Linked DNA regions of Homo sapiens: regions 2 and 3 are each linked to region 1. The links come from fine-mapping of genetic effects on gene expression. A gene starts in region 1. Each other region holds a variant in brackets. All regions are shown on one strand. Distances are between the middles of the regions. Region 1 holds the start of CHD5 (chromodomain helicase DNA binding protein 5). Region 2 overlaps CHD5 (chromodomain helicase DNA binding protein 5). Region 3 overlaps CHD5 (chromodomain helicase DNA binding protein 5).

Region 1 (2,748 bases):
AGGCGAGGTGAGTGCCGGGCTCCTGTAGGAGCTCAGTGACAGCATTAAAGCCACCAACTAACCAAGCAAGCAAACAGAAGGGGGCAGGGGGTGTGGCCACCTGGTGGGAATACCCTCCCCAGAAGACGCTGGCTGCTTCCTCCAACAGGAGCTGGAGGTGTCCATTTGTGGAGTCTTCTCACCCCTGGAAGTCAGAAGGGGCCAGATGCACGTTCCTGGGCCCGGGAGGGCCTCCAGCCTCCCACAAGTCTCTCCGAAGTCCAGAGAGGCCACAGACTTGGCGCAGGGAAGCCGAGAAGTAAGAGTCTCCCAGAAAGGAGGGAGGGTGGCTGACAGGGTGGGGCCCTACCCAGCTGTGCCAGGAGGGAAAACGTCCCAAACAAATGGTGAGCAGTTAACTAAAGAACTGTCCCGCAAGGCAACCCCTGGCGCACAGCCCTGTGTATACTAAATTCTGAGAGAGATAAAAGGAGAGAGATGGTAGGGGCAGGGGCGGTGGCCCTGGGGCGTCAGGCCCGTAGCCAAGGCAGGGTGGGCTGGGAACGGCCACCACCCTGGGCGATGGTGAGGCTGGAGACAGCGGCGGGCGCTAGGTCGCGCCAGAAGGACGCCGGCGGCCCGGGTAAAGTGCTTGGGAGCGGCGGTCACAGCGCACAGAGGCCAGGAAAGAGGAGCAGGGGTCCGAGCCCGTGCGTCCCAGAGCGGAGTCCTCCTGGGCCGGGAGGGAAGCCGCCCCATCCTGGGCGCTCAACGCGTCCCCAAGCACCGCCGGTCCTCGCCCCTCTCTGGGCCCCACCCAGCCCGCCCCGCGGCCGACATGGGCCAGGGGCCGGGTCCCGCCTGCCCGCAGCGAGGCCAGAGGCGCACGGCGGCGGGACGCGAGCGCGGGGTGCGCCGCTCCGGGAGCTAGCGCGATTCCCGCCCCCTTCAAGGGCACGCGGGCTGACCCTGACAGCGCCGCGCCCCCCAGCGCAGGCCCCGGCCCGCGGTCCTCTGGCCCGCCTGGCCCGCGTCGCCGCCCGGGGGGCCCGGATCGCACCCCGCCCTTAGCCGCCCTCACGCCGGCCCGGGCGCTCACCCAGCCTTCGCCCTTGGCCGCGCGGCGCCAGCAGGGCGGGAGCGCAGCCCCGCAACCCGGGTGCCCCTCCTGCGAGGCGCCAGCCCGGCCGCGCCGCCCCCGCCGCCCGCGCTCCGCCCTGGGCCCGGCCCGTCTCGGCGCCCCCGCCGCTCTGGCCCCAGGCGCACCCGCGCCCCGCTCACCTGACATCTCGTCCTCATTCTCCATCTCCTCGGCGAACAGCCGCGGCAGCTCCTCCTCGGTGCCCACTGGGCCCCGCATGCCCGGCGCGGGGAGGAGGGGAGGTGGGCGCCCCCCCTCCCGCCGGGCGCGGTGCCAGCCTTAACCCGTGCGCTGCCGGACCGGCGCGCGCGGCGGGCGAGGCGGCCTCGGCGAGAAGATGGCGGCCGCCTGCCCCCCCACCCCCCCAAACCTCCACCCCCCCGTCTCGACCCCCCTTTCTCTCGGCCGCCTTAGCCTGCTCCCCGCAAAGCCCGGGCGCTCCTCCCACCGCGCCCCGCAGCCCGAGTCCCGCAGCCGGCCGAGGGTGGCGGCGGCAGCGCCAGAGGCACGGCGGCACGGCGGGGGGGCGGCACACATGCCCGGATTGTGACGTCCAGTCTGGTTGCTGTGGCAACCCCATCCCATCGTTCCGGCAGCGCGACTAGTTAACAGCAGAGAACAAGTTGGGGGACTAGTCCTGAGCCGCCGGGTGAGGGTGGGGACCGGGGGGCGCCCCGGCAGGGGGAGCCGTCGAGGCGTCCGCGCGCCCGCGGACCCGACGGCCGAGCGGGCAGTCGGGGCTTGGCGAGCCCGGGCGCAGGGGGAGGCGAGGAAACACCGCCCCCGCGCACCCCGGGCAGAGCCAGCCGCCGCCGCTCGCCTGCGAAGGCGCTGGGCCCCGAGCCCCCAAGGGCGCGGAGGCAGGGTCTTCAGGGCAGCGCGCGGCCCGCTCCCCCACTCGGTTCACAGGCGCCGGGACCCACCCCGCTCCCGGCTCCGGCCTCGGCACGTTCCTAACCCCCTCTCCAAAGAGGATTAGAAGAAAAATGTGTTCCACACTTGGGGAAAAGACGCTCTGGAGACTGTGGGTCTGATTTACAGCAGAAAAATCCGCGCAGGCGGGCTCCCCTCACCTGCTTCCCCGCTCCCACCGCCCACGTGCCCCCTTCCAAAAAGCCCCTCCAGGCTGGGTGCAGCTGAAACCCATGCAGACCCCTAGGGGTGGTGCGGATCTGCGATGTCTGTGCCCAAAACTCCCGCTCAGAAGCGACACCTGTCGCAGAGCAGGAAGGAGCCGCCGCCACCAGCCCTCGGTCGTTAAAGGTGAAGATGGAGGCCAAAGCCCTCGGGAGCAAGACTGGAATTTTAAATGAGCGCCTCCAGTCTCCGCGGCGGCAAGTCTTAAAGCTACCTTAAGAACGCAAAAGTTCCAGGGGCTGGCCGACCGCCAGCTCTCTAACCCCAGAAGGCCCGTGAAGGGAGGGCCCCCTCTCACTGCCTCGCAGGGGCACTGGGGGAACCCACCTGAGACACGCAGGATCGGCAGCAGTTTCCCTTCTTCCCGTTCAATTTTATTGCCAGCAAACCCCAAACAAAAGACCCTCTGCATTCATCCCTGGGCAAGGAGAGGTCGGTCCAGCCTTCTGGAACCAAAGACTGGGGTGTTGGGAACCCCTCCATCTCCCAGA
Region 2 (2,748 bases), 28 kb before region 1:
GGACGGATGGACAAAAGGATGGATGAATGGATGGATGGATGGATGGTGGATGGATAGCTGACGGATGGATGGACAAATGGATTGATGATGGATGATGGATGAATGGCTGGATGGATGAAGGATGGATGGATAAAAAGAAGGGACTGAGGGAAGGAGGGAGAAGGAGGGATGGGAAGGAAGGTGAGGTAAAGATGGGTGTTAAGTGGGTGGGGGGTGACTGAAGGGAGGATGGCGATGAGATGAAGCACTTCCCTCTCCAGTCACCACACTGCTAATGCAAATGCCCTGGGGTAGCTCCCACCATAGGTTCCTTGTTCTTTCCTTACTGGGACAGGATGCCCCTCCCCAGACAGTAGAAACCAGGGCCGTGTGGGAAACACAGGGGCCCCACCTGGCTGAGACATGAGGATGCCCTCCCCCTGCTTCCCACGGGGAGGTTCCATGCCCCGCACATCCACCCGGCAGGCCGAGAACCGTCCAGATGGGGAGTCCTACTCGTGCCCCACTACATCCACCCAGCAGGCCAAGAACTCTCTGGAAGGGGAGTCATACTCCTCTTCTTCTTGCGCCTCCTCTTGCTCTTCTTGCCCAGGGCTGCAGAGCATTCGGAGCGCACGGAGGCACTGTGGATGCTGGCGCTGTCGAAGTCCGACTCCTCCCTCTCATCTTCTTCACTCTGCAGGGGAAGACAGGGTCCTGTGATCCCAGGGCTTCACCCAGAAGGCTTCGCTGGCCCAGGCAGTGTGGGGTGGGACAAAGCACGGAAGAGGCTCTGGAGACACAGTGCTCTCTGTGATTCATCTCAGCCCCCAACACAGCTGAAAACCTCACATTACAGCCTGCCTGTCCAGCCTGATGTCCCACCGCCTACCCAGAGCCCTGCTCTCCAGCCTCAGACACTTCCCACAATTTCCACCTCTGAACAGCTTCCCAGGCCTTGCCCTCCATCCTGCCAAACTCCTAAACATCCTTCAAGGGGCAGCCCTAGGGACACCTCCTCCAAGAAGTCTTCCCAGATCTCTCCTTTACTGGACCTACTGTGGCTGC[G/C]TGTGTGCCAGGTCTGGCCTGTCCTGTCTGACTGGTACATCACGGGCTCTCCACCAGCAAACATGCCTGCCAGGTGACGAGTGCTACAGGACCACGGCCCACTGTGGCTGAGCAGCGGGCCTGGTACACAGTATGTGCTCAACAAATATCTGCTAAGCTGAACTGGACCGTCAGCTCCAGGGCGGGCCACACCTTCTCTCCATGCTCCCCTCCAGACCTAACACTGGCTCCTGCCATGGTGCAGGGAAAGAGCTTCCAACTCCACCCACCGCAGGGCTGGGGTGAGGTGAGGGAGGCAGCTACCTGTGGGGGTGAGGAGGGCGAATGCCCCTCACACTCACAGAGAAAGGGGGGCCCCAAGGCTGAGTAAGACCTGGGCTTAGTGTCTGAGCCTGGGCCCAGAGCTGGCCCTGAGGACAGGAGGAGGTAACTGGGGCTCCAGCCAGCCTGATCCTACCCACATACCACTTCTCTAGGGTCCAGCCCCCACCCAACTACTCCCCCCGAGAGCAGACCTGGGTGCTGGGCGGCCAGGCCCCACCAGGACAGATCCCTCCACCTCCTGCCCAAATGGAGTTGCAGCTGTGGACAGCAGGAGCCAGGACTGAGCTCCCACTCAGGAGGGTGAGCCAGGGGAGCACTCCCTGCCCAGAGTCCAGGCTAGAAGGGCCCTTGGAAGGATTCAATCTAAACTCCTCATCACACAAATGGAGAAACTGAGGCCCAGCACACCTGCATGTAGGATGGAAGGAGAATAGTGGAGGGGTGCGACCTGCCCCAGCTAGTTTGTAATGAACTGAAGGCCCTCGCCTGGCCCTTGCGTGCTCATGTGCAGACACACATGCATGCAAATGCACACACACGCGCACACACGCACACACTCACCGAGGAGCCTTTCTTCCTCTTGTTGCTGATCCCCCCGAAGCGGAACTTGAGCCCGGCCGTCTTTTTCCCTTTGCCCTTTTTCTTCCCATCTTTGGAGCCTTTGATCTTCTTCCTCACTCCAGGCCCTGAAAAACAGCAGTGATGATAGCCAACCACTGCCACCACTGACGGCCTGCTTCCTGCCATCATCTCACTGAGCTCTCGGTTACCCAATAAGGAAAGGGTCATTTCTACCATCACCCCGTTTCAGATGAGATGCCTGAGGCTTGGAGAGGTAAACCCCTTGCTTAAAATCACACAGCAAGTGAGGCAAAAACCAGATGACGGCTCTGACTGGAGGCTGCCCTGACCGCCTTGCTGCCCCTTGTCCATGACCCACAGAAATGTGGCCCTTTTGGGAGGATCCCCTATACCGTCTCCAACCACTGAAAGGAGGCACTAGCCATCCCCCACAGCCAGCAGGGCCACTGAAGGCACAGCCGCCCACCTGTGGTCCATGCCTGAGCCCCCAAAGGATGTCTTGGAGCCAAAAGGCCTTTTCCCACCTGCCAGCCAGGCAATGCTGGTCCCACCCAAGACTGCCCCACCTCTGCCAGTCAACCCCAGCAAGGGCCAGCAGGGCTGAGGCTGTTTTTATGGAGCTGGCCACAGGGCAATTAGCTACCTGGGGAGTAATGACCCAAGAAGGAAGGGGGGCCTGGAGGCAGGGATGCACACCCCACAGAGGCAGCCTCTCCCCAGGCCGTCCTCTGGCCACACCACACACACGGACATGGAGCTAGGAGCCCAGCTGCACCCTCCATGGCGCCGCGGAAA
Region 3 (2,730 bases), 23 kb before region 1:
GCTTCACTCCTCTGCCTCCCTCCCGACTTGGTACCACCAGAGGATGTGCGGGCCTGGAGAACAGCCCTAGTGCCCCGCCCACCTGAGGAACTGGCTGAAGGCCTTGTAGTTGGTCAGCGTGTGGTAATCCTCCTCCGAGAACAGGTAGTCCACGTCGTCCAGGCCCCACTCGGCCATGAGCTGCCCCGAGGACTTGGGCTCCTACAGAGACCCAGGCCAGAGGTAGAGTTGTTGAGGGGCCTTCTGACCTGCACCCCCATCCCCAGGGTCTCTGCCTAGGAGGCTTTGGCACAGGGGAAAGAGGAGGGGTTGTGTCTGCAATGTAACCAGACCATTCTCACCCACCCTAGGAAACATTCAAGCCCTGCAGCCCCGCAGCCCCGCAGCCCCCAATCTGTGCCACGTCTCAGATGCCAGCCCACGAAGTGCAGGCCAAGTGTTCGACGTCAGGGTTTGGGGAGAGGCCATGTGTGTGCCCTGAACTTCCAGAAAGGGAAATCAGCCAGGTGTGGGCAAGGAGACTGGATGCCTGAGACCAGGCCCCCATCCTGAGATAGGGCTGCCCGACCAGCCTCGGGACACCAGGGCAGGACAACAGAACTTGCCCTCTGTGGGGACTGCATTCTGGGGATTTGGACAGCAGGACAGCACAGTGGCCTGAAGACGGGAAGATGTCCCTGATGAGGCCGCAGGGCTCCAGGGCTGCCTAAGCCACTTTAGAAAGACATGAGGCCTCCAGGCCAGGGGTGGTGGCTCACGCCCGTAATCCCAACACTTTGGGAGGCCAAGGCAGACAGATCATTTGAGGTCAGGAGTTAGAGACCAGCCGGGCCAACATGCTGAAACCCTGTCTCTACTAAAATACAAAAATTAGTTGGGTGTGTTGGTGTGTGCCTGTAATCTCAGCTATTTGTGAGCCTGAGGCAGGAGAATCACTTGAACTCGGGAGACGGAGGTTGCAGTGAGCCGAGATGGCGCCACTGCACTCCAGCCTGGGTGACAGAGCAAGATTCTGTCTCAAAAAAAAAAAAAAAAAAAAAGACATGAGGCCTCCCCAGGATGCCAGGTATAGCTACGTCAGCCCTTGTGAAGGACAGGCCACTGCCAGTTTCCAGTGAAAGGAAAGTGCACTCTGCTGGGGCAGGGGCATGGGACAATGGGCCAGCTGGGGGCACAGCCCAGAGAGGATCCAACTACTGCTGA[G/A]GCCTGGGGTGGAGGGACATCCTGGGGGCACAGCCCTGAGAGGATCCAACTACTGCTGAGGCCTGGGGTGGGGGGACATCCCAGGGGCACAGTGAGTTCTCAAGAGAGCTAGCCCAGGGGTCAGGTGACCAGATGACCAGGCCCGGGCTGGCGGGGCTCAGAAAGGGAGGTGCCGGATGTGGGCATGGGCTGGTTCTGATCCTGGCTCTGCCACATACCGGTGGTAAGAAGTGGATAAGTTACTTAACTTTCCTGCCTCGGTTTCCCCATCTGTAAAATGGAGATAATGGCACACTGCCTTGCAGAACAGAATGACTTAGTGCAGGTGCTTGGAACAGGGTGTGTCAAAATGCGTTAGCAATTGTTAGCACCCAACCCACCCTTCTTCTTCCTTCCCTGACACCCCACTTCTTCCAAGCAGCCCTGAGCTGCCCCCACCCAACCTGATACATTAAGCCAATCAGTACACACCACTCCTAGGCCAAAGTCTGGTCAGGCCAGTCATGTCTTAAGCCAGTCCAATCAGAGGGAATGCTGGTCTCCTGCCTGCATACCTGGACATGGGAGGCCTGCTCTCCCTCCTGCTGGAGGGGCCAAGAAGCCCCGAGCTGCTGCTGCCCTCATTCTCAGCCACAAGAATGCTCAGCCATGAGGGTGCCTGGCCTGAGCCCAACACTGCCACAGCAGAGGCAGAGTGAATGATGCAAAGAGACAGCCTCTGATAACACCACTGGGTCCCACAACCCCGAAGCCCCTTGCCTCTTAGTTCTCAGGGCCCTGATCCCACACATCCCTCTACTGCCTAGGCCCCGGAGCTGGGCTTCTGCTCCTGCAACAGGAGGCTGCCCTGAGCGTCTCCCAGCACTGAGAACCAGTCTGCCCATCCAGGCTGCGGGAGGCCTCCAGAGCCCATTCTTGCCTCCTGTTCTGTGACAGCTCAGAGAATTCCTCACATGGGGCCCCCTCTGTGGCTGACCTGCCCCCGTGGACACACATGGCCATTCCTGATGGCACACGGACCCCTTGGTCCCCACCCAGGACAGCAGAGCAGCAGGTGAGCGAGGGGATGATACTGTTACAGGGTGATCCTGAATCACTCTCTTAAGTGAAGCTTTCAGAACTGTCAGCCCCGCAGCGACGATCCGTCTCCGGTGACTCACAACACTCCACTGACTCATGAAATCACCCCAGGTGTCAGGACACCGCCAGGAAGAATCGCTCCTCCTCCCACACCTCCCAACTTCAGTTATTCACATTCATGATTTCTGCCTCACCCAACAGCAACTGTACTAATATTTACAGAGCGTTTATCTTTAAATCTGTGACCAGCCCAAACCGAGCCTTGGTGTCTCTTAAAAGAACAAAGGGAGCACAGTGTTCCTGAATGGCACTGTCACTCACCCACTGCCTGTCCACCAACCTCACCCCTGGCCTCTCCATCTCCCCAAGGAGCCCCAGGGTGCAGCCTCTGAGACTCCGGAGCACCTCAGCATGACCATAAAGGCCTGGCTTCCTTCACATCATTTC

Evidence for each region. PIP is the estimated chance that this variant, and not a neighbour inherited with it, causes the effect.
Region 2: its variant is the best candidate, but not a certain one, in a credible set for the expression of CHD5 in blood mononuclear cells (TOPMed, PIP 0.69).
Region 3: its variant is the best candidate, but not a certain one, in a credible set for the expression of CHD5 in whole blood (TOPMed, PIP 0.51).

What each region holds. Positions count from the first base shown.
Region 1 is chr1:6,178,685-6,181,432 of GRCh38, forward strand. It overlaps CHD5 (chromodomain helicase DNA binding protein 5), which reads right to left and starts at 1,637. Exons shown (of 42, transcript NM_015557.3): 1 at 1,261-1,637. The coding sequence starts at 1,339. RefSeq lists enhancers at 1-394, 395-894.
Region 2 is chr1:6,150,480-6,153,227 of GRCh38, forward strand. CHD5 (chromodomain helicase DNA binding protein 5) reads right to left here. Exons shown (of 42, transcript NM_015557.3): 6 at 1,933-2,057; 7 at 553-676. Among named protein-coding and RNA genes, the nearest start is that of CHD5, 28 kb to the right of the region's middle. The variant G/C (reference allele first, on the strand shown) is at 1,048.
Region 3 is chr1:6,155,517-6,158,246 of GRCh38, forward strand. It overlaps CHD5 (chromodomain helicase DNA binding protein 5), which reads right to left. Exons shown (of 42, transcript NM_015557.3): 4 at 83-201. Among named protein-coding and RNA genes, the nearest start is that of CHD5, 23 kb to the right of the region's middle. The variant G/A (reference allele first, on the strand shown) is at 1,204.